Homo sapiens: one gene and its partners. The protein of the gene in region 7 purifies or fractionates together with the protein of the main gene of each other region. This does not show direct contact. Each region holds a gene or a part of one and is shown on either strand. Other genes may lie near its edges.

The links.
Region 1: the proteins of DSC1 (region 7) and GRK7 purify together in Homo sapiens (affinity purification with mass spectrometry; one large-scale study listed by BioGRID and IntAct). This does not show direct contact.
Region 2: the proteins of DSC1 (region 7) and FLG2 purify together in Homo sapiens (affinity purification with mass spectrometry, with the first as the bait; one large-scale study listed by BioGRID). This does not show direct contact.
Region 3: the proteins of DSC1 (region 7) and SLCO4C1 purify together in Homo sapiens (affinity purification with mass spectrometry; one large-scale study listed by BioGRID and IntAct). This does not show direct contact.
Region 4: the proteins of DSC1 (region 7) and SERPINB12 purify together in Homo sapiens (affinity purification with mass spectrometry, with the first as the bait; one large-scale study listed by BioGRID). This does not show direct contact.
Region 5: the proteins of DSC1 (region 7) and ARMC9 purify together in Homo sapiens (co-immunoprecipitation; one large-scale study listed by IntAct). This does not show direct contact.
Region 6: the proteins of DSC1 (region 7) and SULF2 purify together in Homo sapiens (co-immunoprecipitation; one large-scale study listed by IntAct). This does not show direct contact.

What each region holds. Positions count from the first base shown.
Region 1 is NC_000003.12:141,780,324-141,784,410, reverse strand, and holds part of GRK7 (rhodopsin kinase GRK7), read right to left. Parts: intron 4,038-4,087; coding exon 3,600-4,037; intron 1-3,599. UniProt on the Homo sapiens protein: Retina-specific kinase involved in the shutoff of the photoresponse and adaptation to changing light conditions via cone opsin phosphorylation, including rhodopsin (RHO).
Region 2 is NC_000001.11:152,353,411-152,357,497, forward strand, and holds part of FLG2 (filaggrin-2), read right to left. Parts: coding exon 1-4,087. UniProt on the Homo sapiens protein: Essential for normal cell-cell adhesion in the cornified cell layers. Important for proper integrity and mechanical strength of the stratum corneum of the epidermis.
Region 3 is NC_000005.10:102,243,843-102,247,929, forward strand, and holds part of SLCO4C1 (solute carrier organic anion transporter family member 4C1), read right to left. Parts: intron 3,601-4,087; coding exon 3,410-3,600; intron 1-3,409. UniProt on the Homo sapiens protein: Mediates the transport of organic anions such as steroids (estrone 3-sulfate, chenodeoxycholate, glycocholate) and thyroid hormones (3,3',5-triiodo-L-thyronine (T3), L-thyroxine (T4)), in the kidney.
Region 4 is NC_000018.10:63,555,571-63,559,657, reverse strand, and holds part of SERPINB12 (serpin B12), read right to left. Parts: intron 3,517-4,087; coding exon of another isoform or gene 3,499-3,516; coding exon 3,331-3,498; intron 1,307-3,330; coding exon 1,172-1,306; intron 81-1,171; coding exon 1-80. UniProt on the Homo sapiens protein: Inhibits trypsin and plasmin, but not thrombin, coagulation factor Xa, or urokinase-type plasminogen activator. May play a role in cell differentiation.
Region 5 is NC_000002.12:231,271,467-231,275,553, reverse strand, and holds part of ARMC9 (lisH domain-containing protein ARMC9), read right to left. Parts: intron 2,600-4,087; coding exon 2,476-2,599; intron 1-2,475. UniProt on the Homo sapiens protein: Involved in ciliogenesis. It is required for appropriate acetylation and polyglutamylation of ciliary microtubules, and regulation of cilium length. Acts as a positive regulator of hedgehog (Hh)signaling.
Region 6 is NC_000020.11:47,673,644-47,677,730, reverse strand, and holds part of SULF2 (extracellular sulfatase Sulf-2 isoform a precursor), read left to right. Parts: intron 1-596; coding exon 597-653; intron 654-1,107; coding exon 1,108-1,237; intron 1,238-4,087. UniProt on the Homo sapiens protein: Exhibits arylsulfatase activity and highly specific endoglucosamine-6-sulfatase activity. It can remove sulfate from the C-6 position of glucosamine within specific subregions of intact heparin.
Region 7 is NC_000018.10:31,128,736-31,132,443, forward strand, and holds the end of DSC1 (desmocollin-1 isoform Dsc1a preproprotein), read right to left. Parts: intron 3,108-3,708; coding exon 2,859-3,107; intron 2,104-2,858; coding exon of another isoform or gene 2,068-2,103; exon of another isoform or gene 2,058-2,067; intron 1,977-2,057; coding exon 1,779-1,976; 3' UTR 501-1,778; downstream 1-500. UniProt on the Homo sapiens protein: A component of desmosome cell-cell junctions which are required for positive regulation of cellular adhesion.

The DNA of each region.
Region 1 (4,087 bases), on a different chromosome or scaffold from region 7:
TGGCAGGCCCGGAAACTGGGGCATAAAACTTCTTGGATGAGGCAAGTGGCCTAAACCCTGAAGTGTGGTCTCACGGGACGGAGAGGGATGCAGAGGTAAAAGGGCCAAAGGTCTGTAGGCAGTGAGCCTCTCTACTAAGTACGTTCCTGGTAGCGGACAGCACTGGGGAGGCACAGAAACCTTCCTGCACGTTCCAGATGAGCCAGAGAGCTGCACCCGGGAGCCAAGGAAGGAGCTGTCCTTCCAAATGGCCATGGCCCATGAACAGAGCCTGAGGAGACTGAGAAAGGAGACTGGAGTGAGCCAAAGCTCTATGTGTCCCCTAAGCCTCCAGCAAGGTCGAGATATAGCAACAATTAGTGTGATACATGTCCATGGGCGACTCAGAAGGAACGCTCCTGCTCAGCACAATGGACAATACAAATGCCAAACTGTGAAGTGCTGCACTTCAGTTTTCTCCAGCCTAGGCAGACATGGATCCACGATTCACAGCGTTCCTGTGTTCATAGGAATGTCCCAAGGAGGCAAACACTCTGTCACCTCCCTGGCCTGCTCCTCCTTCCCACCCACAGAGGAGACGGTGTTACTTCAGCTCCTCCCCACATTCTCTGCCATCATCTACTGTCTTTCCTTCCCACAGGATCAACACCTACTCTGCTGGCTTTTGCCTCAGCATCTAAACCCGCTCTGCCCTCCCCATCTCAAAACTCCATTTCCCCACTGTATCCCCTTCTAGGGACCAGTCTCCCCCTTCCAGAGTCTCATTCCCTACTTCTAGATCAATCCAGCCTCCAGAGTCTGAATTGAGACCTCACCATTCCCTTACACTGATTTCCTAATTGCCAAATCCCACAGGCGACGTTACCTCTTTGCAACACTTGACACTTTGACCACACTTTCCTCCCTGAAATCCTCTTCTTTGGCTCCTGTGGCAGAGGCTGCTAGTTACCTGCTCAATATCCAGCTGTTCTTCATCCTTACTAACTAGAACCCGCTCCTTCACCCCTGCCTCAAGTTCCACATCTACAACGTGGGCACACATGGCCTGGACATGAGCCGGGTGATCTTCTCCTCAGCCCAGATATAATTCAGTAATTATAATCGCTTAATTATAATTCCCTTTTTAACCAAAGAATTTTCAAGAATGTCATTTGTCAGCTTCCTCTGCAGCTAGGGGGTGGCCAGATCACAGTCTTAGCCAGTGACATCTAAGTGAAAGCTGTTGGATGGAGCTTCAGGGAAAGCTCCTAAAGGGGGCCACACTCAACTGCTGCATGCATGCCTATTTACTCCTGACCCTTCCTCCTTTCTCCTACCTGGAACATGGCCCTGATGGCTGGGGCTACAGCAGCCATCTTGCAGCACATGGAAAAGGCTAGAATTATAAAGATGCAGATCCCATTATTCTGCAGCTGCTGAACTAATGCTGGCAAGTGCTTATTTCCACACCCTGTTACATAAGAAAAATAAACCTCTGTCTTGTTTAATCTATTGTTATTTGGGTTTTCTAGGATATGCCCCTGAAACCCATCTCTAACTGATACAGCTCCTATGACTATATCACTCTTGCCTTTCCTCCTACTTCTTTTTTTTTTTTTCTTTTTTTAAGATGGAGTCTCGCTTTGTAGCCCAGGCTAGAGTGCAGTGGTGTGATCTCAGCTCACTGCAAGCTCCGCCTCCTGGGTTGACGTCATTCTCCTGCCTCAGCCTCCCAAGTAGCCTTCTACTTCTTAAACCTCTTCAGGGCTCCTTTTCTTCTATACCCCCACATGTTGGTGTTTTTCAGCTTCTGTTCCTGGTCTTCTTCCCCTACTCTTTCCCAGTGACTCAGCAGTGCCCTCTGCTTCCCAAACCATGATAACTCCAAATCCCCACGTCTATCCCAGGTCTTCCTCCACAGCACCAGGCCTATAGATCTAAATGCCTAGTGAACATCTCTGCCTGTCCCTTCTACAGGAACCTCATAGACAGCATAATCACAATTAAACTTGCCAGCTTGCCTACAAATCTGCTCTTCCTTCTGGCCACTGGAGCTAGAGACCCTCACTTTCCCCTCACCCCCATACCCAGCTGGTCCTGAAGTCCCATCAGATCTCTTTCCAAAAGCTCCAATTTGCTCCCACTTCTTCAATCCCACTGTCCTGTACAGACCCCCATTATTTCTTGCCTGGGCCACTCACTACCTTAGCCTCCTAACTGATGTCCCCACCTACCATCTAACTTCCAAATTGTTGCCGCATTGGTCTTTTTAAGACAGAAATCTAATCATGTCATTTCCCTTCTTAAAACCCTTCAAGAACCCCTCTTCCCCTACAAGAAGGCATTCCAGCACCTGTGAAAGCCCAGCCCTTCAGTCTTGTCAACATCCCTTCCATTACAGCCACATAAAATCACCACAGCAGTTTCCCAAACTTGCCATGATTTTTCTCATTTCCTTTGGGCCCTGTAGGCTGAAAACTGTACAAAAATGAGGTTTTAAGTAACCATTTAAGAGCCAGGTTTGAGCCCTTGCCTTGCTGTGGAATCTCCCACCTTTGTGCACAGAGACTCAGAGGTAAAGATGTTAGAATTCCAGAGATTTTCCGTCGTTCACCTAACATAATCGCTTAATTATAATTCTCTTTTTAACCAAAGAATTTTAAGCAAGTCACTTTGAACAAAACTGATTAAAATAAACATCAGTTGCCTTTGTTTTCTTCCATATATTTTCATTTAAAATATCATCTTCATCCAATGCAAAACATTCGCCCATTCCACACTAAACAGGAAAGGAGATATTTTACTTTTAATGTTCTAGGTGTGAGAGGATCATTCTTTTTCCTTCTTTCTTTATTTTTTTTCTTTTTTCTTTTTCTTTCTTTCTTTTTTTTTTTTGAGACAGAGTCTTGCTCTGTCGAGCAGGCTGGAGTGCAGTGGCATGATCTCGGCTCACTACAACTTCCGCCTCCTGGGTTCAAGCGATTCTCCTGCCTCAACCTCCCGAGTAGCTGGGATTACAGGCGCCTGTCACCATGCCTGGCTAATTTTTGTATTTTTACTAGAGATGGGGTTTCACCATGTTGGCCAGGCTGGTCTCAAACTCCTGACCTCAGCAGATCCACCCGCCTCGGCCTCCCCAAAGTGCTGGGATTACAGGCGTGAGCCATCACACCCAGCCGGATCATTCTTTTTCTTATCTGATTAAAGTTTACCTCCTAGGATCATGGAATTTTAGGGTCCAGCCCCTTCATTTTCCAGAAAAGGAACCCAAGGCTCTATTGGCTCAGGAACACAGCACCATAGAGGTGGTTATTGACACACCCGGACCATGACTATGGATTCAGCTTTTTCCATCTCATCACAAAAGCACAGGCCATCCCCAACTCACAAAGGAGGCTCCCCCATCCCCTGTGAGAGGAGAGCAAAGTAGCCCTCAAATAGCCAATGAATCTAATCCTCTTACACCACTCATCTTAAGGCAAGATGACAACGTAAGCGCTTTAGGAAAAAAAACCAAAAGAATTAAGTCCAAGGCTCTATTTGCCCTGGGAATAGAAAAGCCCTCTCCCCTCCTTTCCAACTCTGTGCCCCGCACTTGGGGCAGGTGGAGAGTCACTCACCCTCTGGGTGATGGGCTTGCCACCCTTCATCTCCACGGCCAGCCCCAGGTCAGATAACCTGCAGTTGCCGAGGTCATCCAGAAGCACATTCTCAGGCTTCATGTCCCGATAGACGATGCCGAGTTCATGGAGGTGCAGCATCCCACAGGCTATCTGGGCCGAGTAAAAGATCACCCGGCTCATGTCCAGGCCACGCGTGCCCACGTTGTAGATGTGGAACTTGAGGTCTCCCCCATTCATCAGGCTCATGACAAGGCAGAGATGGGTCTTGCTCTCAAAGGCATAGGCCAGAGAGACAATGAAAGGGCTGCTGACCTTCTCCAAGATTTCCTTTTCCAAGAGAGCCATCTTCTCGCCACCTTTCTTCTTCAGCCGCTTCTTGTCCAGTTTCTTACAGGCATACATCTTCCCAGTGTTTTTCACCTGGACGGCACATACCTTAAAGGAGAAAGAAAAGAAGAGAAAGAGGTAGAAGTAGATGGTACTGC
Region 2 (4,087 bases), on a different chromosome or scaffold from region 7:
ATCCTGACTCTCCATGTTGAGATCCGGCTTGGCCATGAGTTTGTTCTTGTGATTGTGGTCTGTGTGAGCCCCCTGAGTGCACTTCACTGTCACTGGACTCACTATGGCCAGATCCCCTTCTTCCAGTTGTCCTGGACCCTCTCTGTGTGGACTGTCCATGACCAGAGTGGCCATGTCCAGTGGCCTCTCCTGTCTGTCCATAAGTAGTTTCATGTCTCTCATGAACTGTGGATTCTGACTCTCCATGTTGAGATCCAGCTTGGCTGTGAGTTTGTTCTTGTGAGTGTGGTCTATGTGAGACCCCTGAGTGCACTTCACTGTCAGTGGCATCACTGTGGCTAAATCTCTGTCTTCCAGATGTTCTGGAACCTGTCTGTGTAGACTGTCCATGACCAGAATGGCCATGTCTAGTGGTATCTCCTCTCTGTCCATGAGTAGTTCCTTGTCTTCTGCGAACTGTGGATCCTGACTTTGGGTAGTGAGATCCAGCTTGTGTGTGAATGTGTTCTGAATGTCTGTGTGAGACCTTTGAGTGCACTTCACTGTCACTGTTCTCACTTTGGCTAGATCTTCGTCTTCTAGTTACCCTGGACCCTGTCTGTGTGGATTGTCCTTGACCAGACTGGCTATGTCTAGTGGTATTTATTGTCTGACCATGAGTAGTTTCCTGTCTCCCATGAACTGTGGATCCTGACTCTACTTGTTGAGATTCACCCTGGCCCAAGCCAGTTGATTGACCTGAGCCTGAACCATATTGGCCAAATCCAGTGGACTGACCTGAGTCAGATATATGTTGTCCAGAACTAGAGAAATTGTCTGAGCCAGACACATGCTGTCCAAAACTTGTGGTTGGACCTGAGCCAGACTCATGTTGGCCACAGCCAGATGATTGACTGGAGCCAGTACCATGTTGGCCATAGCTAGACTGACCTGATCTGTACTCATGCTGTGCAAAGCCAGAGGATTTACCTGTGCCTGACCCATGTTGTCCAAAGCCAGAAGACTGACCTGAGCCCGATCCATATTGGCCAAAGCCAGAGGACTGACCTGAGCCTGGCCTGTGTTGTCCAAATCCAGATGTCTGTCCTGAATTTGACCCATGTTGACCATAGCCAGATGATTGACTTGAGCCAGAACCATGTTGGCCATAGCTAGACTGACGTGATCTAGACTCATATTGTCCAAAACCAGAGGATTGTCCTGAACCAGTCCCATGTTGTCCAAAGCCAGAGGACTGATCTGAGCCTGATCCATGTTGTCCAAAGCCTGAGTATTGGCCTGAGCTTGACCTGTGTTGTCCAAAGCCAGTTGTCTGTCCTGAACTAGACCCATGTTGACCATAGCCAGATGACTGACTTGAGCCAGAACCATGTTGGCCATAATTAGACTGACTTGATCTAGACTCATGCTGTCCAAAGCCAGAGGATTTTCCTGAGCCTGACTCATGTTGTCCAAAGCCAGAGGACTGACCTGAGCCTGATCCATGTTGGCCAAAGCCAGAGGATTGACCTGAGCCTGACCTGTGTTGTCCAAATCCAAAAGTCTGTCCTGAACTTGACCCATGTTGACCATAGCCAGATGACTGACTTGAGCCAGAACCATGTTGGCCATAGCTAGACTGATGTGATCTAGACTCATGTTGTCCAAAACCAGAGTATTGTCCTGAGCCAGTCCCATGTTGTCCAAAGCCACTGGACTGACCTGAGCCTGATCCATGTTGTCCAAAGCCAGAGTATTGACCTGAGCTTGACCTGTGTTGTCCAAAGCCAGATGTCTGTCCCGAACTTGACCCATGTTGACCATAGCCAGATGATTGACTTGAGCCAGAACCATGTTGGCCATAGCTGGACTGATGTGATCTAGACTCATGCTGTCCAAAGCCAGAGGATTGTCCTGAGCCAGACCCATGTTGTCCAAAGCCAGCGGACTGACCTGAGCCTGATCCATATTGGCCAAAGCCAGTGGATTGACTTGAGCCTGACCCATGTTGTCCAAAGCCAGATGTCTGTCTAGACCCATGTTGGCCATAGCCAGATGACTGACTTGAGCCAGAACTGTGTTGGCCATAGCTAGACTGACCTGATCTAGACTCATGTTGTCCAAAGCCAGAGGATTGTCCTGAGCCAGACCCATGTTGTCCAAAGCCAGAGGACTGACCTGAGCCTGATCCATGTTGGCCAAAGCTGGAAGACTGACCTGAGCTTAACTCGTGTTGTCCAAATCCAGATGTCTGTCCTGAACTTGACCCATGTTGACCATAGCCAGATGATTGACTTGAGCCAAAACCATGTTGGCCATAGCTAGAATGACCTGATCTAGACTCATGTTGTCCAAAACCAGAGGATTGTCCTGAGCCAGAAACATGTTGTCCAAAGCCAGAGGACTGACCTGAGCCTGATCCATATTGGCCAAAGCCAGTGGATTGACTTGAGCCTGACCCATGTTGTCCAAAGCCAGATGTCTGTCTAGACCCATGTTGGCCATAGCCAGATGACTGACTTGAGCCAGAACTGTGTTGGCCATAACTAGACTGACCTGATCTAGACTCATGTTGTCCAAAGCCAGAGGATTGTCCTGAGCCAGACCCATGTTGTCCAAAGCCAGAGGACTGACCTGAGCCCGATCCATATTGGCCAAAGCCAGTGGATTGACCTGAGCCCAACCCATGTTGTCCAAAGCCAGATGTCTCTCTAGACCCATATTGGCCATAGCCAGATGATTGACTTGAGCCAGAACCATGTTGGCCATAGCTAGACTGACGTGATCTAGACTCATGTTGTCCAAAACCAGAGGATTGTCCTGAGACAGACCCATGCTGTCCAAAACCAGAGGATTGTCCTGAGACAGACCCATGCTGTCCAAAGCCAGAGGACTGACCTGAGCCTGACCCACATTGTCCAAAGCCAGAGGACTGACCTGAGCCAGACCCATGTTGTCCAAAGCCAGATGTCTTACCTGAGCTAGACCCATGCTGGTCATAGCCCAAGGATTGACTTGATGTAGACTCATGCTGGCCACAAGTTTGACCTGAGCCACATACATGTTGTTCGAACCCAGAGGACTGACTCAAGCCTGTTCCATGTTGTTCAAAGCTAGTAGACTGACTTGAACCAGACCCATATTGATCACATTTGGAAAATTCATTTGAACTAGAAGAGTTTGAAAAGCGGCCACAGGAACCATATTCATGTTGACCATTACTACAAGACTGGCTACCTCCAGACCCATATTGTCCACAGCAAGAGGACTGACTTGAGCCTGTTCTCCATTGTCCTCCACAGTTCTGTGGTTGACCATTTTCTCTAGCTCCATATCCTCTCTGACTATAGGACTGACTACAGGGGTTAGACTCAGGTTGACCACATCCAGAGGGCTGACCTCCTGAGACACAGCCATGGCCTTGTCCTCCCTTAATTCCTGACTGACAGCCTGACTGAATATAGCTAAATTGATTTCCTTGCCCTCCAAATCTATGTGACTGACAAGAACTTGAAGCATTTTGTGGCCTTCCACACCCACTTGAATTGCTATAACCACATGCATGACTTCGCCTCCCACTGTCTCCTGAACCTGAACAGCTAGACCCAAGCTTTTGTTCTCTAATTCTTGACTGAGTAGAGTTTGATTCATGCCCACTAGTCTCCAATCCACATGACAGACCACCATGACCTTTCCTTTCCCAACTGTTTGATCCAGATCCAGATTCATACTCCTCCCCAGATTCCCTAGAAGGGCTAATGTGTGACTTGTTTATTCTTTCTCTCAGTTCTACAGAGCTGGAACCATGTCTGTCTTTGCCACCACTCCATGAATGACCACAGCTGGACCTGTGGTATCTTTTCTGAGATCCCTCTTGGTTCCCAGAGCTGGATAAATTACCTTGTCTTCCTAGCCTCCTGGAGTTGGACCCATGTCTACATTTCACAGTTCCCCTTGAGTGCCCAGAACTATATCCATGCTCCTCTCCCTCACTCCAACTTGAATGTCTGTAACCTGATTTATGTCCTGGTGTATCCTCTTCATCCTCTTCTGTTTCACTTTCTTCTTCTTGGTGTCGGTGACCACGCCTATGCTTCTTTGACCCTGA
Region 3 (4,087 bases), on a different chromosome or scaffold from region 7:
CACAGAGAAGGAATTCAGAATTCTATCAGATATATTTTACAAAAAGACTGAAATAATATTGGCCAGGCATGGTGGTTCACACCTGCAATTCCCAGCACTTTGAGAGGCTGAGGCAGATGTATCACTTGAGGTCAGGAGTTTGAGACTCAGCCTGGCCAACATAGTGAAACCCTGTCTCTACCAAAAATACAAAAATTAGCTGGGCATGGTGGTGCACGTCTGTCATCCCAGCTACTCGGGAGGCTGAGGCAGGAGAATCACTTGAACTTGGGAGGCAGAGGTTGCAGTGAGCCAAGATCATGGCCACTGCTCTCCAGCCTGGGCAACAGAGCGAGACTCCATCTCAAAACAAAAAAAGAATCAAGTGGAAATTCTGGAGCTGAAAAATGCAATTGGCGTATTGAATAATGCATCAGAGTCCTTTAGTAGCAGAACTGATAAAACAGAATAAAGAATTAGTGAGACTGAAAACAAGCTTTTTGAAAATATACAGTCATAGGAGACAAAAGAAAAAAGAATAAAAAACAATGAAGCATGCCTACAGCATCTAGAAAATAGCCTCAAAACGGAAAATCTAAGAGTTATTGGTCATAAAGAAGAGGTAGAGAAAAAGATGGGTAAGAAAGTCTATTCAAAAAGATAATAACAGAGAACTTCCCAAACCTAGAGAAAGATATCAATATCCAAGTACGAGAAGGTTATAGAAGACTAAGCAGATTTAACCCAAAGAAGACTACCTCAAGGCATTTAATAATCAAACTCTCAAACATCAAGGATAAAGAAAAGATCATAAAACTAGCAAGAGAAAAGAAACAAATAACATACAGTGGAGCCTCAATACATCTGGCAGCAGACTTTTCAGTGGAAACCTCATAGGCCAGGAGAGAGTGGCAAGTCATATTTAAAATGCTGAAGGAACAAAACTCTTACCTTAGAATAGTATATCTGGTTAAAATATCCTTCAAACATGAAGGAGAAGTAAAGACTTTCCCAAACAAAAGCTGAGGGATTTCATCAATGCCAGGCCTGTCCTATAAGAAATGCTAAAGGGTGTACTTCAATCAGAAAAAGAACATTAATGAGCAGTAAGTAATCACCTGAAGGTACAAAACTCACTGGTAATGATAAGTACAAAGAAAAACACAGACTATTCTAACACTGGAACTGTGGTGTGTAAACTACCCTTATCCTAAGTAGAAAGGTTAAATGATGAACCAATAAAAAATAGTAACTACAACAACTTTTCAAGACATAGTACAATAAGATATACATAGAAACAACAAAAGAATAAAAAGCCAGGGGACAAAGTTAAGGTGTAGAGTTTTTATTAGTTTTCTTTTTACTTGTTTGTTTTATCAATAACACTGAATCTAAAAGAACTAAACTCTCTAATCAGAAAACACAGCCTGGTTGAATGGATGATAAAACAAGATCCATTGACCTGTTGCCAACAAGCAAGACACTTCACCTATAAAGACACACATAGACTGAAAATAAAGAAATGGAAAAACACATTCCATGCCAATGGAAACTGAAAGAGAATAGGAGTCACTATACCTAGAAAAAATAGATTTCAAGACAAAAGCTATAAGAAGAGACAAAGAAAGTCACTATATAATGATCAAGGGGTGAATTCAGCAAGAGGATATAACAATTTTAAATATATATGTAGCCAACACTGAATCACCCAGATATACAAAGCAAATATTAGTAGAGCTAAAGAGAGAGACAGGCCTTGATACAATAATAGCTGGAGACTTCAACACCCCATGCTTTGCATTGGACAGATTTTCCAGATAGAATATCAAGAAAGAAACATCAGACTTAATCTGTACTATAGACCAAATGGATCTAATAGATATTTACAGAACATTGCATCCAATAGCTGCAGAATACACACTCTTTTCGTCAGCACATGGATCATTCTCAATGACTGACCATACGTTAGGTTACAAAACAAGTCTTAAAACATTCAAAGTAACTGAAATAATATCAGTCATCTTCCCTGACCACAATGGACTAAAACAAGAAATTAATAAGAGGAATTTTGGAAACTATACAAATATATAGAAATTAAACAATATACTCCTGAATGACTAGTGGGTCAATAAAGAAATTAAGAAGAAAATTGAAAAATTTATTGAAACAAATGATAATGAAAACAACATGCCAAAATCTATGGGATATAGCAAAAGAAGTACTAATAGGGAAGTTTATAGCTATACATCAAAAAAAAGGAAAAATTTCAAATAAATAATCTAATGATACATCTTAAAGAATTAGAAAAACAAGAAGAAACCAAACCTAAAATTAGTAGAAGAAAGGAAATAATGATCTGAGGAGAAATGAATGAAACTGAAATGAAGAAAACAATACCAATGATCAATGAAAAATTAAACAAAATTGACAAACCTTTAGCCTGACTAAGAAAAAAAGGAGAAGATGCAAAGTAATAAAATCAGAAATAAAAAGACACATTACAAGTGATACTGTAGAAATTCAAAGGATCATGAGTGGCTACTATGAGCAACAATATGCCAATAATTGGAAAATCAAGAAGAAATGGACAAATTCCTAGATACATACAACCTACCAAGATGGAATCAAGAAAAATCCAAAGCCTGAACAGACCAATAACAAGTAGCAAGATTGAAGCTGTAAGGAAATGTCTCCCAGTAAAGAAAAGCCCAGGACCTAATGGCTTCAGTGCAGAAAAGCCAAAGCTACTCTAAGCAAAAAGAACAAAACTGCACATGTACCCCTGAGCTTAAAATAAAAATTAAATAAACAGTAAAAAAAGAAAATGTAGTGAGTAAATACTAAGGAACAAAAAAAGAAAAAAGCTATAATTCATTAGGAAAGATATACAAAGACTGATGACTCTATGGAAGGACAGGTATGAAATGTACAAGTATGGAATGTGTTTGTGCAGTGGGATACAAGGAGGAAGAGCAACTGGAAACATAAAACACAGGTGAACAACACAGGTAATAGCCAGTTTCTTATTGATTAGCACTGCTTAAGGAAGATTTAACGTCACAGTGCCTAATGCATAAGGTAGAATGCATGCCATTCTGATTCTGGCATATTGGAATGCATTTTATTTCTATGATACTCAAAACTGAACGTTTCTCCAGCTCACACCTGAAGCTTCATGAAAGAAGCAGAGAAAACACCAAGCACAAGCCAGGCAGGCAATGTGAAGACACTTTCACCTGCATATCATTTAAATCTCCTACATCTGGGGTTCTACAGAGGAGCTTGTCCAATGCCACAGAACTAATGATCTTGTAAGGGCTGATTGGTATTGAACCAATGGTCAATATGAACCCCAAATGAACCCCGAGTCCATTTGTTTTCCATCAACATGTTGCCTTAGGGAATGAAAATTTCTCAACGTGCTACATACCTTAGGATAGACACAGTTATAGGAGTACCGGCCATAAAGGTAAAAATAATTACAATAAAGAAAATGCAAAGGAATATGGGCAGTTTCGCACAATGAGTTTCACATTTTCCAGCTTTAGCTTCAAAACCAAAAGTTTCTGCAGTGGATGTTATTTCTGTTTTCCTTTCAATACAGGAACAGTTGTAATATACCTAAAAATATTAGACATAAAAACAATGAAAGTGATCATTTAGAAAATAAATTATTGTAAATTAGGTATTCTCTAGACATGGCAAACACTCTCATACTGTCTTAATCCATATTCAACAAATTATGCTGAGAGAATATTTAACCCTTAAGAAATTAAGCAAGTGGAAACAAACCATATTTATGATGTGGAATTATCTGTATTTGACTTTTGTGGCCATTACTTCAGTTTGTAACCTGCTACAGTGATTATTGACTTACAAAACAATTTAATGGGAATATAAGTTACATGACCTTGCACATTCTACACTTCTTTCAACAGTAATTATTTCTTAAAGTCATTTTACATCTCAACTCCATCCTTCCATATCCTTTATCCTTACTATAAATCTTTTTTAGACATTAAGGCCTCAACGAATCAGAGCAGAGCCAGAGAAATCAAAGAGAAGCAGTGCTTTCATTGTTCCAAAGGCCAGAAACTTTTTTTTTTTT
Region 4 (4,087 bases), about 32 Mb from region 7:
GTCTTGATCCTGTCTAATTTGGAGAGAAGCTGCCCAAAGTAGCAGCTGACCAGTCCGCTCTCATTGTTTAAGGACCCAGCCTAAGGAAAGAAGAAACAAAATGTGACCTTCACTGTGTCTATCAGAAGAGCTAAACACCGCTAAAAGATGCGTGTTTTGTACAGAAGCAAGATAGAGCTTCTTAGTAAGATGTCAGCTGTCTCTGTTACCATGCTGGGGGAAGTGAGCTGGGAAGAACAGAGGAATGGAGGGTGAGAAGTGGTCCCAGTGGAAGATTATGGCTCCCACATCTATATCAAGATCATCCAGGAAAAATACATCTGGGGAACTCAGCAACGCTCACTATATTTCAGACTGACACACTCTGATTTTCTTTACATTTCAAAGAGGCCAGGCATGGTGGCTCATGCCTGTAATCCCAGCTACTCTGGAGGCTGAGGCAGGAAAATTGCTTGAACCCAGGAGGCGGAGGTTGAAGTGAGCTGAGATTGCGCCACTGCACTCCAGCCTGGCAACACAACGAAACTCCATCTCAGAAAAAACAAAAAGAAAGAAAGAAAGAGAGAAAGAGAGAAGGAGAGAAGGAGAGAAGAAGGAGAGAAAGAAAGAAAGAAAGAAAGAAAGAAAGAAAGAAAGAAAGAAAGAAAGAAAGAAGGAAGGAAAGAAAGAAAGACAATCATCTATCCACCCTCCTCTTAAACTTTCTAAAGTAGGGGGATGCATACCCTGGATAATATCTTTCCTCCTCCTGGCATGAGGCAACCAATAAAAGTTTTGTCTGTCAGTGCAGATTTCAGCACGAAATGGAACAAGCAGAGATAGAGGGAGACAGTAAGAATTCCACAGCTGACCCTACCCCTTACCACCTTTATCTTTGACCATACTCTGTGTTGGGGCCCTGTGGCCTATAGAAGCAGATGAGGGACAGAGTGATGATCTAGGCTTCTTTATCATAAGCAGAAGACACCAGATCCTACTCTTTAGGAAACTAGCTGATAGCCAAGGACATCTGAGATCCATACTCAGGAATCACAGATCACATGAGGTTATTGCTGTTGATGGTATCCAGAGTCTAATATTTGGGGATAAGCAACTATCACCAAATATCCTACAGCCAGAATAAGCAGTTTGTAAAAAAGAAAGGCAAGAGTTTTCTACGGTGGCGGTTCACCTGCTGATCCAGAGGCTCTGTCGTTTTTTTCTGCCCCTCCAGAGAGCTGTCAGCCAGCACTTTTTGTTTGTTGCTTTTCAGACAAGGGTCAGGTTCTTTGCTTTCATTCTGGGAAAATTCGTTGAAGTGTAGTACCTGCATGATAACGGGATGGGGTCTTTCAGATAATATGAACAGAGGGAAGCCTGAATAACTTCAGAAACATTTCATAATGAGACAATGGCAATGATTACATAGTCAAACAAAACAATCAACAACAGTTTAAAGGAAAGTGGGTGCTTCTGTACTTGGGTTGGGAGGTGGAATCGAGGAGAAGAACCAACCGCTACCCTGGGAGAGCATTTATGAATAAATATAACCAAACTAAAAGAACATAGAGGTATCCACAAGCTAAATGTAACTATGGAGCATTTCATAGATACCCAATCTGAATTGACTGTAAGTGCAAAATACACACCAGATCTTGAATATAGTATAAAAAAATAAATAAATAAAATAGCTCATTAAAATTCTTATATTGATGATATGTGGATATGATATTTTGCATATACTAGGTTAAAAAATTATTATTAAAATTAGTCCCACCTGTTTCTTTTTACTTTTGCAATACAGTTACTAAAAAATTTTAAATTACTATGTGGTTCTCATTATGTTTGTGTCAGACAGTGCTGATCTAGAGTTTCACATGAATCAAGGGAGTGAGGACAGCAAAAGACAAGTTATCCAGAGCCTGGTAGAAAGGTAGGAGACAGGCGTCATATCCTGCACTACTCAGACCCATTTGGTCAGCAGGTGCCCTCAACTGCCTAAGAAAGAACATCTGAATTCTGCCCTGCAAGATGCAAACCACACTCTAAAGCTAAGTTTTGCTAATGGAATAAGAAAATAATACACCAAATCTTAGTAGATGAATAAAGCAGAATGACCCCAGAAACACATTCTGTCTTAATCCATAAATTCTACTGCTCCATATTCAGGGGAAACAGCCTGAGTTGTGCATAACCCCCGCACTATGTGCTACATCCAAGGAAGTATAAGGCCAACCATGGGAACTTGTAGTTTATTTGGGGATTTGTTCTTATTACCTTCATTTATTTATTCTAGAAATGTTTATTAGGTGCCTACAAAAGTATCCCTTATGGTCTGGAGGTCAGGATGCAGCACTAGATTAGGAGGTCAAAGTAGGCCCCGTATAGGAGATAAACACTGATCAAAGTCTTGAAGAAGAAAGTGAGCTGAGGTCAGTTACCAGGGGAAAGAGCCATCAGGCAAAGGGACCGAGAGCAAAGGCCCCAAGATAGGATGGGCATGACTTACCCAAGGAAGCCAGGAGGCCAATGTGACAGGTACAGTGAGGAGGGATGAAAGTGAGAGATGGAGTCACAGGGCTTATCTGGGATTCAGATCTCCAGATCCTTGTGGGCCATTGTAAGGACTTGAACTGCTATCATGAGTGAAATAAGAAATCCAGGTTTTTGAACAGATGAGAAATAGAATCTGGCTCAGGTTTTAAAAGGGTCTCTTGGACTGCTGTGCAAAGGATAGATTGCCAGTGAGAGCAGGAAAGCCCATCAGGAAGTTGCTGCAGTATCCAGGTGAGAAAAGATGGTTGTGGTTCAGACCTCAAGGAGACTGGGAGAAGTGCCTGGATTATGGATATCTTTCAAAAGAAAAGCCAACAGAATTTTCTAACAAATGTGGTATAAAGTGAGAGAGAAAGAGTCCAGGAGGACACCAAGCTCTCTAGCCACTGGAACCATATATGGTACTTAATGAATATTTATTTAATGAAATGAGTGAGACAGAAGACATATACACATACTAAAAATCGCTAGCAATATTGGTATTAGCAATCATAGAGTAAAAGAGTGACAGACATGCATACAGAGATAAAGATAGAGATGAATGAGAAAAGCTGCCAGACATGAAGTTGAGGAGCACCCTAAAGAAGGTACAAGTTTAAGTGAGACTTTAAGAATGGTAGGATCGAAGAGGAAGTAAGATGGAGAAAATACAAATAAAGACTCAGAGACAGGGATGGGTTCTGACCAAGCCCAGGGTGCAATAAGCCCCTTGGCTTGCCTAAGTGGGATTAGGGTCTGACTTTGAGTGTGGACCCAGAGTTTAGGACCCTGTGTAGCACCCTAGTGGACACGTACCTCATCAATCTGATGTGCACTGTCACTTCTAGCACCCAAGCGTACCATACCAAGGGCAGCTGAGAGGCTCAGGGGAGAGAAAAATATGTTTTTATGACGATCATCTTTGCCTATCTCTTGAAAAAGATCAAAGCAAAATTTGGTGTTTGCTGTAACAAGAGAGTCCATTGTAAAACTTATAACGATCTAAAACCAAAAAAAAAGGAGAAAGAGAAAATGGTGATTGGAAGAAAATAAGTGAACAAACAATTTTATTTTACATACCTGAAATACAATCATGCACAATTATTCAGTATGCTATTAAGAACTGGAAAACTAAGGTCATTATCATCCCTGTATATAAATATTGGTGTTGATATTGATAGACAGAGATCTATTTTCATTTAGTAGTGTGAATTCGTTTCCTGGGGCTGCCATAAGAAATTACCACAGACTGAGTGGTTTAAATAGCAGGAGTTTATTCTCCCATGGTTCTGGGGGACAAACGTCCAAAATCAAGATATCAGCAGATTTGGTTCATTTCAAGACTCTCAAGGAAAATCTGTTTCATGCCTCTCTCTCAGCTTGTGGTGGTTGCCAGCAAACTTTGACATTCCTTGACTTGTAGACAAATCACTCAAGTCTCTGCCTCCATCTTCACATCCTTCTCTTTATTGTCCATGTATGTATCCAAATTTCCCTCTTCTTTTAAAGACAGCAGTCACTGAATTAGAGCCCATCCTAAGCCAGTACAACCTCATCTTAATTTGACCACATC
Region 5 (4,087 bases), on a different chromosome or scaffold from region 7:
TCTATAGAGTAAGGGTAGTTTAATGACCTGGTTAATGCAAATTATAAGGAATGATTTTCCACCCAAAGTCCAGGTGTAGAATCTTACAAAATCCAATACCCCATCAAAATGTGTGATGGTGAATGTCATCAGGTTAGCTTTAAGAATTGCTGAGACTAAGTGTGGTATCATTATGAGATGCCATCTGGATTAGTAGAAAACTGACATGCCACAGAGAAGCCAGCTCTGCACATCTCCGGATGCGCAGGTTATGGTGAAACCACCACTCAGGACAGAACAGCAGAACCAGTTATCCGTTCATCCTGTTCTTAAACACTACACTGACCCAATCAGGGTGGCTTATTAGAATACAGTGAAGACTGCGCTCTCTTGGTAACTAGCTACCTTCTTCATTTATTGCAGAGACTCTGGAAAACTGCAAAAAGGTTAAGCACATTTACAGAACAAAAAAGCTTAAATTAACACTTAGAGGAAAAGATAAACAGGCAGTAAACATTTGCATTACCAGGAGGAAGTATTTTTTTCACCATATCTTGTATCTGTTACTTAACTATAGTTATTGAATTTCTAAAAACTTCCCCAAAGCGATCAACATGGAGCAAAGTTCTCTCTATAAACAAAAAGAAATGAAGTGTTTGTATGCTCTGAGGAAGTAATGACTCTGCAGCACTTACAGTTCTTTTCGATTCATATAGTTAGAACAAAGAATTTTCATTGGCAGGGAGCTGGCAAATGGTAGATACAAATACCTATCCCTTCCCCCACTAAAAACACACATGCTTAGACCATTTCACTTTGTAGGCTTCTGGTTATTTGTGAGTCAGTCAAATGTAAACCACATTTGATGGGAAGAAAGTGTGTTCAGAAGAGGACCGACAGAAAAAAGTTGAAGACTCCAGGGACTAGAGTTCTCAAGAAAGTCAAAGAGAACTTGAGGTGATCATGAGAGAATAAAAACTCTGAAAAAATTACCATATGTCCCAACAGTTCCTCTCCTAGATGCCGATCCACGAGAAAAAGAAACATATGTCCACACGAAGACTTGTGCTGAAGCATTCATGGCAGCATTATGCATATTGGCCAAAAATGCAAACAACTCAAATGCCAATCAACTGAAGGACAAACAAAATGTGGTGTAGGCCGGGCGCGGTGGCTCACACCTGTAATCCCAGCACTTTGGGAGGCCGAGGCGGGTGGATCACAAGGTTAGGAGTTCGAGACCAGACTCACCAGCATGGTGAAACCCCATCTCTACTAAAAATACAAAAATTAGCCGGGTGTGGTGGTGTGCGCCTGTAATCCCAGCTACCCAGGAGTTTGAGGCAGGAGAATTGGTTGAACCCGGGAGGCGGAGGTTGCAGTGAGCCAAGATTGCGCCACTGCACTCCAGTCTGGGTGACAGAGTGAGACTCCATCTCAAAAACAAACAAACAATATGATGTAGCCATAATGGAGTACATATTCAGCCACAAAAGGAATGAGGCCCTGACACATGCTGCTACATGGACAAACCTTGCAAACGCGATGCTAAGTGAGAGAAGCCAGTCACAAAAGAGTGCACACTACATGATTCCATTTATATGAAACGTCCAGTACAAGTCAATCGACAGAAAGCAGATTTGTGGCTACCGGGGACTGGGGGTAGGAATGAGGAGTGACTGTAAATGGGTATGAGGTTTCTTTTTGTGGTGATGGAAATGTGCTAAACCTGGATTGTGGTGATGACTGCACAACTCTGTAAATACACTAAAAATCCTTCAATTGTATGCTTAATATGGGGGAATATTATGGTGTGTAAATACATCTCAACAAAACTGTAAACTAAAAAGGAACCTACGGGGCCGGGTGCGGTGACTCACGCCTGTAATTCCAGCACTTTGGGGGGCTGAGGTGGGCGGATCACCTGAGGTCAGGAGTTCGAGACCAGACTGGCCAACATGGTAAAATCCTGTCTCTACTAGAAATACAGAAATTAGCCTGGCCCCATTGGTTCCAAGTCATGACGGTCTAGGCTGATCCCATGGGGTGGGCTGCTGGGATCATGGACAAGGTCAGGAGGCCCTAACCCTGACTTCCACAGAACTGCCCTTGACACTCTGCTGGGATGTGCATTCATGTGTGCAGCTCCCACAGGGGACTGGAAGTAACTTGAGGGCTGAGGCTCTATCAGGTCTGATTCATGTGTCTGTCTCTAAGCCCTGCACATGCCCTGAGACACAATCCTGCATGGCTGGCACTCGATAATGTCCATTAGGAAAATCCAATGATGCTTTGAAAATGTCTTCCTCCATCCCCAGCAGCCTTGCGCAGGATAGTTTAGTGGATTACAGATAAGCTTTCTAGCTCTGTCTTAGAAAGTCATCCAACCTCTCCAAAGTGTAGTGGAAAAATACCATCTGCCTCCTGGGTTGCCATGGGAATTTTAACTCAATCTGATCTCACAGGAGACACCGTGACCTATTGCACAGTCGTTACCTGAGACTGAACTTCTGCAGGGCCCCAAGAACATTCTCCCTGGTGATGATATCCTTGTCCTCCTCCTTCAGCCTTCCCTCCAGCATCTGCAGCACCTTTGTGTTCTGGGCAAGGTAGAGGCGACCTGATAATACACCAGAGATGAAACAGGTGAAAGACAGAAATAATTTATCTGGTATGCTACAAAACCACTTTCCACGAAAACTTACTTTGCATATAACACAGTAGAGTTTGGGTAATTTTATGTTCTAAAAAACTTACTGGGCAGGGCGCGGTGGCTCACGCCTGTAATCCTAGCAGTTTGGGAAGCCAAGGCAGGCAGATCACCTGAGGCCAGGAGTTTGAGACCAGCCTGGCCAACATGGTGAAACCCCGTCTCTATTAAAAATACAAAAATTAGCTGGGTGTGGTGGCAGATGCCTGTAATCCCAGCTACTCGGGAGGCTGAGGCAGGAGAATTGCTAGACCCCAGGAGGCAGGTTGCAGTGAGCCTGAGATCGTGCCACCACACTCTAGCCTGAATGACGGAGCGAGACTCCATCTCAAAACAAACAAACAAACAAACAAACAAACAAACACTTACTGGTTGTGCAAGGTGGCTCACGCCTGTAACCCTAGCACTTTGGGAGGCTGAGGCAGGTAGACTGTTTGAGCCGAGGCGTTGGAGACCAGCCTGGGCAACAGGGCGTAACCTCATCTCTATAAAAACTAAGGAACATTAGCCAGGTATGATGATGCACACCTGTTGATCCCGCTAATTGGGGGGCTGAGGCGCGAGGAGTATTCCTTGAGCCCAGGTGGTTGAGGCTACAGTGAGCCGAGATCATGCCACTGTACTCCAGTCTGGTTGACAAAGTGAGACTCTCTCAAAAAAAAAAAAAAAAAAAAAAACCAAACACACACACACACACAAAACCCCCACAAAACTTATTAAAACTTATTAAAAGATATTTCTTCTAAACGTTAAACGTTGGTTTTATTCAATGAAATATCTGGTGACTAGAAAAACCACTCTTCTTGTGAGCTAAACATAATTCATTGCTGTGTTCTTGTGGGGAGCATTGTCCTTTTTTTTCCATGAAATCCTGAACCCAACAGTCAGATCTACAAAGAGAAATGAGGGGTAATGTGTGTGTTATGAGCCCTTAAGTCTTCACAACAGAGGCAGCCAAGGAATGCTTCCATACACACTCTCTGTACAAGGCCTGGAGAAGAAGCAGGAAGCCACACCTGGGACCCTGTAATAAGCCCAGAATGGTCCCTAGCCTGTTGTGGACTTCTGAATGGATATGGAAGATGTTAATTTCAGACATAAGTTTCAACAGTATTATTATATGAATGGTCCTCAGTAACACATCCTGGCTTATCATAAATGTCTGCCAAATGGATGGAAGAACGAATGAACAAATGAACAAAGTTTTGGAGTATCATATATTCATAATTTGAAAACTCCCTTTATTCACATTATAAAGAGCTCAAATAAATAAGAACTTACGGAAGATAATGGCACTTTGCAAAATCATTTTAAATTCAGTTATGGGGGCATGTTATTTTCAGAGTTTTCAAATCCTTTGATTTAAGAGGTCATAGTCTTCTGAAGGAAATGGTGCAG
Region 6 (4,087 bases), on a different chromosome or scaffold from region 7:
CAGCTTCAGAGTCCCCATCTAGGAAATGGAAATGACCAGGTGGCACTGGATGAAACATACAAATTACATACATGCAACTGCAAAGCACCAAAGAAGAAAATACTCCCAAAACCCAATGCAATTAACCTGACATCAAGGCAACCACTGCGCCTGACACTGAGCTCAAGACAGAGCTCAAGACGCCAAACCACTGCGCCTGATGCTGAACCACTGCGCCTGACGCTGAACTCGAGATAGAGCTCGTCTAGTGCCGGGGGAGTTGCTGGGCTTCCTGGGAGGGGCTTGAGATGTGTGTGCGCGCACACACACACACACACACACACACACACAGTTACTTGGGTGGGACTTACAGTGATTTTGACCTGGGTCATTTCTACTGTGTGTGTCTCCAGACCCAAGTCTCTGGGGAAGGGGTGGCTCAACTCAGAGGAGGGTGGGCAATGCTCTAGTGCCCAGCTGGGCACACTCACCACAATTGCTGTCCAGGCTGACCGTAAACCAAGGCTGACTCCTGGTGCCGTCCCTGCTCCTGGGGGAACGGGGGGTCGTGGGAAGCCCTCATGTTGCTGAGAAGCAGGAGCCGTGCTTTTTTCCAGGTTTCACTTGAAAAAGAAGATGAGGGTCTGGCGGGACTCCTTCTTGGTGGAGAGAGGGTGAGTGCCGGGTCCTGGGAGGGACACCCCTGCCCACCTCCCTCCCTCTGCCCAGGAAGCTTCTGTAGCCCCACCGCATCATGCTATTCAGGAGCTGCCCATGGCTCTGAAGTTGGTCCAAAGGCCCCTAAACACAAAGCCCATTCACTGCTCCTATAGACACAGAATTGGGGTCTGAGGTCACGTGTACGCTTTTGGCATGCTTTGTCCAGCCTCTACAATGTCTTCAATTTATTTAATTTATTGCCAACTCATGCAATTTGGGAAGTTTCTTATAAAATTCCAATGTCTTAAGTTTCCTAAACATCAGAAGACCCGGGCAGGTGGCCCTGCGCCCTCCACTGTGAGGAAAAGCCGGAGCCGAGGGGGCACCCCTCTAGGTGGGCACACATGCCTCCGGGGCTCCTCCAGAGCTGAGAGGCCGGCCCCGCGGCTCCTGCTCTCTGCCCCATAGCAAGCTGCTACACAAGAGAGACAATGACAAGGTGGACGCCCAGGAGGAGAACTTTCTGCCCAAGTACCAGCGTGTGAAGGACCTGTGTCAGCGTGCTGAGTACCAGACGGCGTGTGAGCAGCTGGGACAGGTAAGAAGGCTCCCTTCCCTCCCAACGGCTCCCCCTCCTGACTGCAGCCGGCCCTGACCTGCGAGGCTCTGAGAGCCGCTGAGCCAGCAGGGCCAGGGCCTCCCAACGGGTAGTCCTTTGCTGCCGTGTGGTGCCCAAGATGCTGTTTGGTGGTGCAGGATGATGCTCACAATAAGTGATTCATTTCTCAGCAGCCTTTGGACCCTGACCGTGTCAGAGGCCAAGTGTCCCGTGGGTGTGTGTATGCCCTTAGCGCCTCTCTAGCCCTTGCCGATCTCTCTTGCACGAAGGCCCCAGCAGGAGTTAAATTATTTTATTTTCACCATATTCACTTTGACAGTATCCTCTTTGTGACTGGTTTTCCTTTTATAGGAGTAATAAGACATGGCTTTTTAAAATAAATATAGGTAAGGTTTTAAAAAGTGAATTGATTGCAAGAGAAATATTAAGGAAATTATGGCCAGGAACAGTCCGTGGCTCATGCCTGAGGTCCCAGCTACTCCAGAGCTGAGGCGGGAGGATGGCTTGAGCCCACGTGTTGGAGGCTGCAGTGAGCTATGATTGCGCCACTGCACTCCAGCTTGGGTGACAGAATAAGACCCTGTCTCTAAAAACATAAGAAAAAAGAAAATTATCTGGGAAGTATCAGAGATAGCCAGAAACTGACATGTTTGGGAAAGCCTGAAGGAGGCTTTTCTGAGGCTGGAAAGCCAGGGCAGGCTTGGAGAGGAGGGTCGGGGGCGGGGCAGGGCAGGGAGGGGAGTGGGATGGAAACTCTGCCTTGGCTGGCCCAAGGGGTGCCGGAGGTGTGTCCCTGCCCTGCCTGTCAAAGGCTGGGACTTTGAGCTGGGGCTGGAGCTGTGTGCCTGTTTCACCTATGAGAAAAAGCAAAACCAGGGCCCTGGTATTGAAGGCCAAGGCCTGAAGTGGATGCGTTTCTGATGGACTGCATTTGAATGACTCCATCTTAACACTGCACACAGAATTAGTACAGGCCCATACAGGCCTGACTGTGCCTCCCCACCCAGTGTGTGTTTGTAAACCCACAGACCCCTCTTAGTCACACAATTAACCCGTATCTGCCACCGGGCAGGAGCTGTGGATTTCATCCCTCCGTTGTACAGCATGAATGCGTCCCCCCGCTTGCCAGGCACTGTCCTAGGCGCAGGGCCACAGCCTCGAACATGCTCAACAGAAGCTCCTGCCCTCCCAGAGCTGATGTTCTGGAGAGAGTTCAGCCTTGACTTTGTACCGAGATCCCAGAAGTGGTTCTGATTTTAGTTCTGGGCTAAAAGGAGTGAAATGAGGAGGCCAGGAAGTCTTTGCCCCTCGACGAGGGAACGTTGTCAAGTCCCCCACTGGTTCTTTCTGATGTCTCCCCTGACCCAGATCAGGGCTTGGGCAGCCAGAATGACCTCTTTGCTGGGGCCAAGAAAGAGGAGGTATCAGCATTTTCCAAACAATCAGAGCACACCACTGAAGCCAAAGGAAGAGAGTGCTGAGGGCGGAGTTTGGGGCACTTAGCCTAGGCCAGCTGGGAGGCAGCAACCCACGGCCCCCGACCCAGCCCCGGAGCTTTGGGGACCTCAGGCTCAGACGTCTGCCCCCCATCCCAGGCAACGGCCCTGCTCACAAGCCGGTACTCCCCGAGTGCCGTTGCCATGTCCCTGCTTGTGCCGTGCCTTCTGGAATGCCCTGCCCAGTGTAGAAGCTGTACCCTGTGGCCCGAGGACGTCTCTTAGGGGCCTCACACCCAGCCATAGCATTGTCTTGGGTACCTTGTCCGTGCTACCCCACGTGGTAGATGTTTTTTTGTCATTTGCTGAACAAACGTGCCCAGGAACCGAGCTCATGTGCATCTGTCTGTCTCCCGGTGACACGGGGACATCCTAAGGGCAGGGCCCGGCTAGAATTCATGTCATCATTGCCAAAGCCCAGACCAGGGCCCAGGCCGGGCAGGAGTAAATGTGCCCTGGGCACCTCGTAATGATGATCATCACGGGCAACACGTGAGTGTAAGCTCTACCTCCAGCCACCCTATCTGGCAGGTATGTTCTGTACACGGGGAAACTGAGGCCCAGGGCTCAGGCAAACTGCCCACAGCCTCACAGCTTCAAGTGGTGGAGGCAGGATTTGAACCCAGGTAGTTGGGCTGCGGGACCTTCGTTCTCAGCAGCTGTAGGGACCCCAAGTCAAGCCGACACTGGCCCAGCCCTGTGGGGCTCAGGCGCCGCCCCCGCCAGGACAGCCTCGGGACGGGCCATGTGGACACGGCTTCTACATGAGTAGTTGCAGGGGCAGCAAACCCTTTCCGCACAAGATCAGACAGTAAATAGTTTGGGCTTTGCAGGCCACATATTTGTTTTTGTTCTTGCTTTTTACAACTCTGAAAACGTACAATGTAAAAACCGTCCTTGGTTTGCAGGCCATACAAAAACAGGCTGTGGGCTGGAGTTGACTAGCAAGAGGGCTGCTGTTTGCCGACCCCTCAAGTCGTGCCCCAGCTGAGTTTGTTGGGTTGGAGCGGGGAGCAGGCAGTGGGGAAGGAGAATTCCAGGCAGAGAGAGCTAAGTGGACAGGAGGCTGCTCGCCAGCGCACACAGCTCAGGGCTTCACGCAGAACTCAGAGCCCTGGCTTTTCTTGAAAAATCAGACCTGGGCTTCTGGGCCTGTGCTCCCCTCTGGCGACAGTCAGATGGGTATAGCCGGTCACAGTGCCCACTTTAGCCTCCCCAGGTCCCCCAGGCGCTTCTGGGCTGGCCTCATTCAGGGCCATGCCTGCTGGCCCATCAGTCTACTTCTGCACTAAGGAATCCAGGTTGCTGGAAGGGCCTGCATGCATTGAAGGGG
Region 7 (3,708 bases):
CAGAGCAACCTGTACATCAGAGAACAAAAATTGCATGACCACAAAAATATTTTATAATGGTTATAAAAATTATATGTTATGGATACCTTATAAAATCTGATTTATTAAAATCACTTTTTTCTTCTGATCCAATATCCAATTTCATATCAAGAAGCGCCTTTAATTTGGAACTGAGAATTAGAAGACTAGTCACAAAATTTTTTTAAAAAGCCACTCATTTTTAAAAATAGTTAACTAGTTAGAAAATATCTAGTTAATAGATTTTTTTAAGTCTTTGTTTTTTCTGGATGAGAAATTTCCATACTGTTATTGTTTATAGACTTATAGAGTTTGCCACAAATGACTACGAAAATGCTATTTAAATATATAGTTTCTTTTTAGATTAATAAAATATACTATCCTATTAAAATGTTATACATTCAAAATTATTTCTGAATGTGTGCGTTCATTTATTCATCATTCTACAAATGTTTGGTAAGTGTTGCTGTAATTGATTTCAATTTTTTTTTTTTTTTTTGAGACGGAGTTTCGCTCTTGTTGCCCAGGCTGGAGTGCAGTGGCAATCTCGGCTCACTGCAACCTCCGCCTCCTGGATTCAAGCGATTCTCCTGCCTCAGCCTCCTGAGTAGCTGGGATTACAGTCATTCGCCACCATGTCCGGCTAATTTCTTATATTTTTAGTAGAGTGGGGGTTTCTCATATACATTCTAGTCCCTAATTCTGACTGCCCATTTTCTTAAAGTAACTGTAAATTTAGGCTGAGTCTTAAGTTCTAATACAGATGGTAATTCAATTTCTGGCATATTCAAGGTGCTAGTCTCTGTATATCAGAGTTGCAGCCTAATGCATCAGGGCTAGTTGTCCAAATGCTTGGAGATGGCAGGTGGCAACCACAGATAAGGCAGGCCTATGTCAAACTCAAGAGTGAATGTTTTTGCTAAAGTATTTATATTTTTAAAATGTTAGTAGTAAACCATGTTGAGCAAACGAAACATATTTGTGAGCATAAGTCAACCCATGGACCTCAGGGCTGCAATTCTTTCATGGAAATCTTCTCATGTAATCTTCATAAAATCTCTGCCCCTCAATTTGCTATGAGCTTGTTCTGGTCCTTATCTTTCCAAGAACCCTAGAAGTTGGAGTGACCTAACAACAAATCCACATGGGCAGAGGTCCAGGGACTGAGCTCTGAAGGATCCTGAAAGAAAACAATGCTGGGAGCACTGCTCTGAGGAGTACAAAAGTGTAAAAGAGAAATGAACTTAATCACAAAACTGAAGATTGCACTGAAGAATACTTAAAAGTCCTTTTTAAACCACTCAGGTGGAGAGAATGCAATTATCTGGCACCAACTATGTTCTAAGAACATAATTCTCCCCAAGATTTTGAAGAACATATTTAATTCGTACATCTACAATGCAAATTCATCTTTCATTGGCCTCTATAATACCCAGCTTTCCCAAATGCTCTTCCACAGCACAAAAAGTAACATCAGTTTGCAAATAAAAGGTGCAAGAAGGTGTACAGTACAGTCGTGAAAAGGGCAATATATACATGCATATAAAAGAGAATTAACAAACAAAACCTTGATTTCTAGAGAACATGGAAGTTATACCAGACAAGGAGAATGTAGGGGAATCTCATATTTATAGTACCCTTACCTATACATGACAAAGTTTACCTCCATAAACAAAAACATTAGCAGATGCTGCTAACATTCTGCAAGTAATAAATTCCTACTTATGCATCTGTGGATATTACACTATTAAAAGGCACATTTATTTCTTGATGCATGTCTTTGCTAATGTCCTAAATTTGGGTTCCAGGTGATCTAGAAACTCCAGTCCCTCTTCTTCCTGCCGATCGCTGCAGCAACCTACTGAGCCGGCCAGAGAACCTTTGCCTTCATAGTTATACGAACAAACGTAGTCTTCACAATGTTTATGCTCCTCATCTTGTCCACACAAATACACCTTCTGTATCAAAAAAGAGCACATTTTATTATTTTTTAAAAAACACCTAAACATATTAGCAGAAAAATGATGTCTTTGATTTACCTTTTACTGTTTAATTTTTAATCAGAGTGTGTCCTCTAATGGATTCCTATATATAAAAAATGCACAGGATTGGTCTGTATTATAGTCACTCTTAAAATATAGCAAATAAATAAATGCTTCTAGTGAGCACATTTAAAAAATTAAGACTACGCATATATCACGCAACACATTTATAATTTCCCATTTGAACACAAAACATGTATATTTGAAATTTACCTTTGTAGCTTCTTCACGTATTTGAGGAAAACCAATATAGGCTATGATTCCTATGTTTATACACTACTATATAACTGTGATAGTGTAATATATTAAACTGGCTAATATCAAACCTATACTGATTAATCTGAACATAAAACAAAACAAGGAACTAAAACTCAAAATAAAAGCTCAACAATTTATCTGGTTGATTTTGATAGCCAGGACTTCATAACCACACAAAGAACTCAAGCACACTGAGAAATGTTTATAATTTATGATCCATTCATTCCTGTATAATAAATATTTCACTCCAGCTGGTTTTCCTGTTAATTTCTAGGGAAGAGGCTATGAACCTTTTATCCTTTGTAAACACATCTACATATGGCACTCCTAGATAAAGTTTTGTAAACTGTATTTTCAAAGGTGAATTTTCAAAGATCATTTTTATCTTTGGGTTTAAACCAGACATCCACATCTATGATAATCCAACAGGTAAAAGATGTTGAATTCCAGGTATATGAGGAGTAAAACTTTTGGGAAATTCTGATTTATAACTAGCATTTAACTTCCATGTAATATGACCTCAAAGACAGTGGAACTTACTTCGCCAAGCCGAGGTTGGGTGAAACTCTGCCAGTCCGTGTACGCATATCTGCCAGTATCTCCCTGCCCCACTCCCTTGACGGACTCCAAGGTCTGATGTCCACCTCCTTTGTTGGAATCCAAAGTGTAGCCTCCTTTGACCATCTCAAAACTTTGCTGTGTTTTGATTCCCTGGCCACCAACAGTACCAACAGACATGCTTGTGTCACAAATGTTGGATGTCTGCATGGGGAGTCTAATATTTGCTTCCTAAAAGTAAAGTGAGAGTGATAAAGTGAATTTGAAAAATGGAAACTAACAATTCATTTTCATTTTTTTTCACCATAGGCAAATCACTTGCCTGCTGTGCCTCTCTGTTCCTCATACATAAAATCAGAATAATAGTATCATAGGTGTGATGGGTTGAATTGAGTCCCCTAAAAATTCATATGCCCTAACCCTCAGTAACTCAGAATGTGAACTTATTTGGAAATAGGGTCATTGTAGATGTAATTAGCTAAGATGAGGTTATATGGGATTAGAGTGGGTCCCTAAGCGAATATAATCAGTATCCTTATAAAAAGGGGAAATTTGGACACAGACATGCACACATGGAGAATCGCCATATGAAGATTTGATTTCCACTGCCATAAGCCAGGGAATTGGCAGAAGCTAGGAGAGAGTCCTGGAACAGATCCCTCCCCAGTTCCTTCAGAGGGAGCACGGACCTGCCAACACCTTGATCTCTGATTTCTAGTCTCCAGATCTGTGAAACAATACTTGTCTGTTGTTTAAGTCACTCAGTTTGTTGTGACAGCCCTAGCCCTGTAGAATTGGGAGGTTTAAATGATTTAAAACACTGAGGGCACTT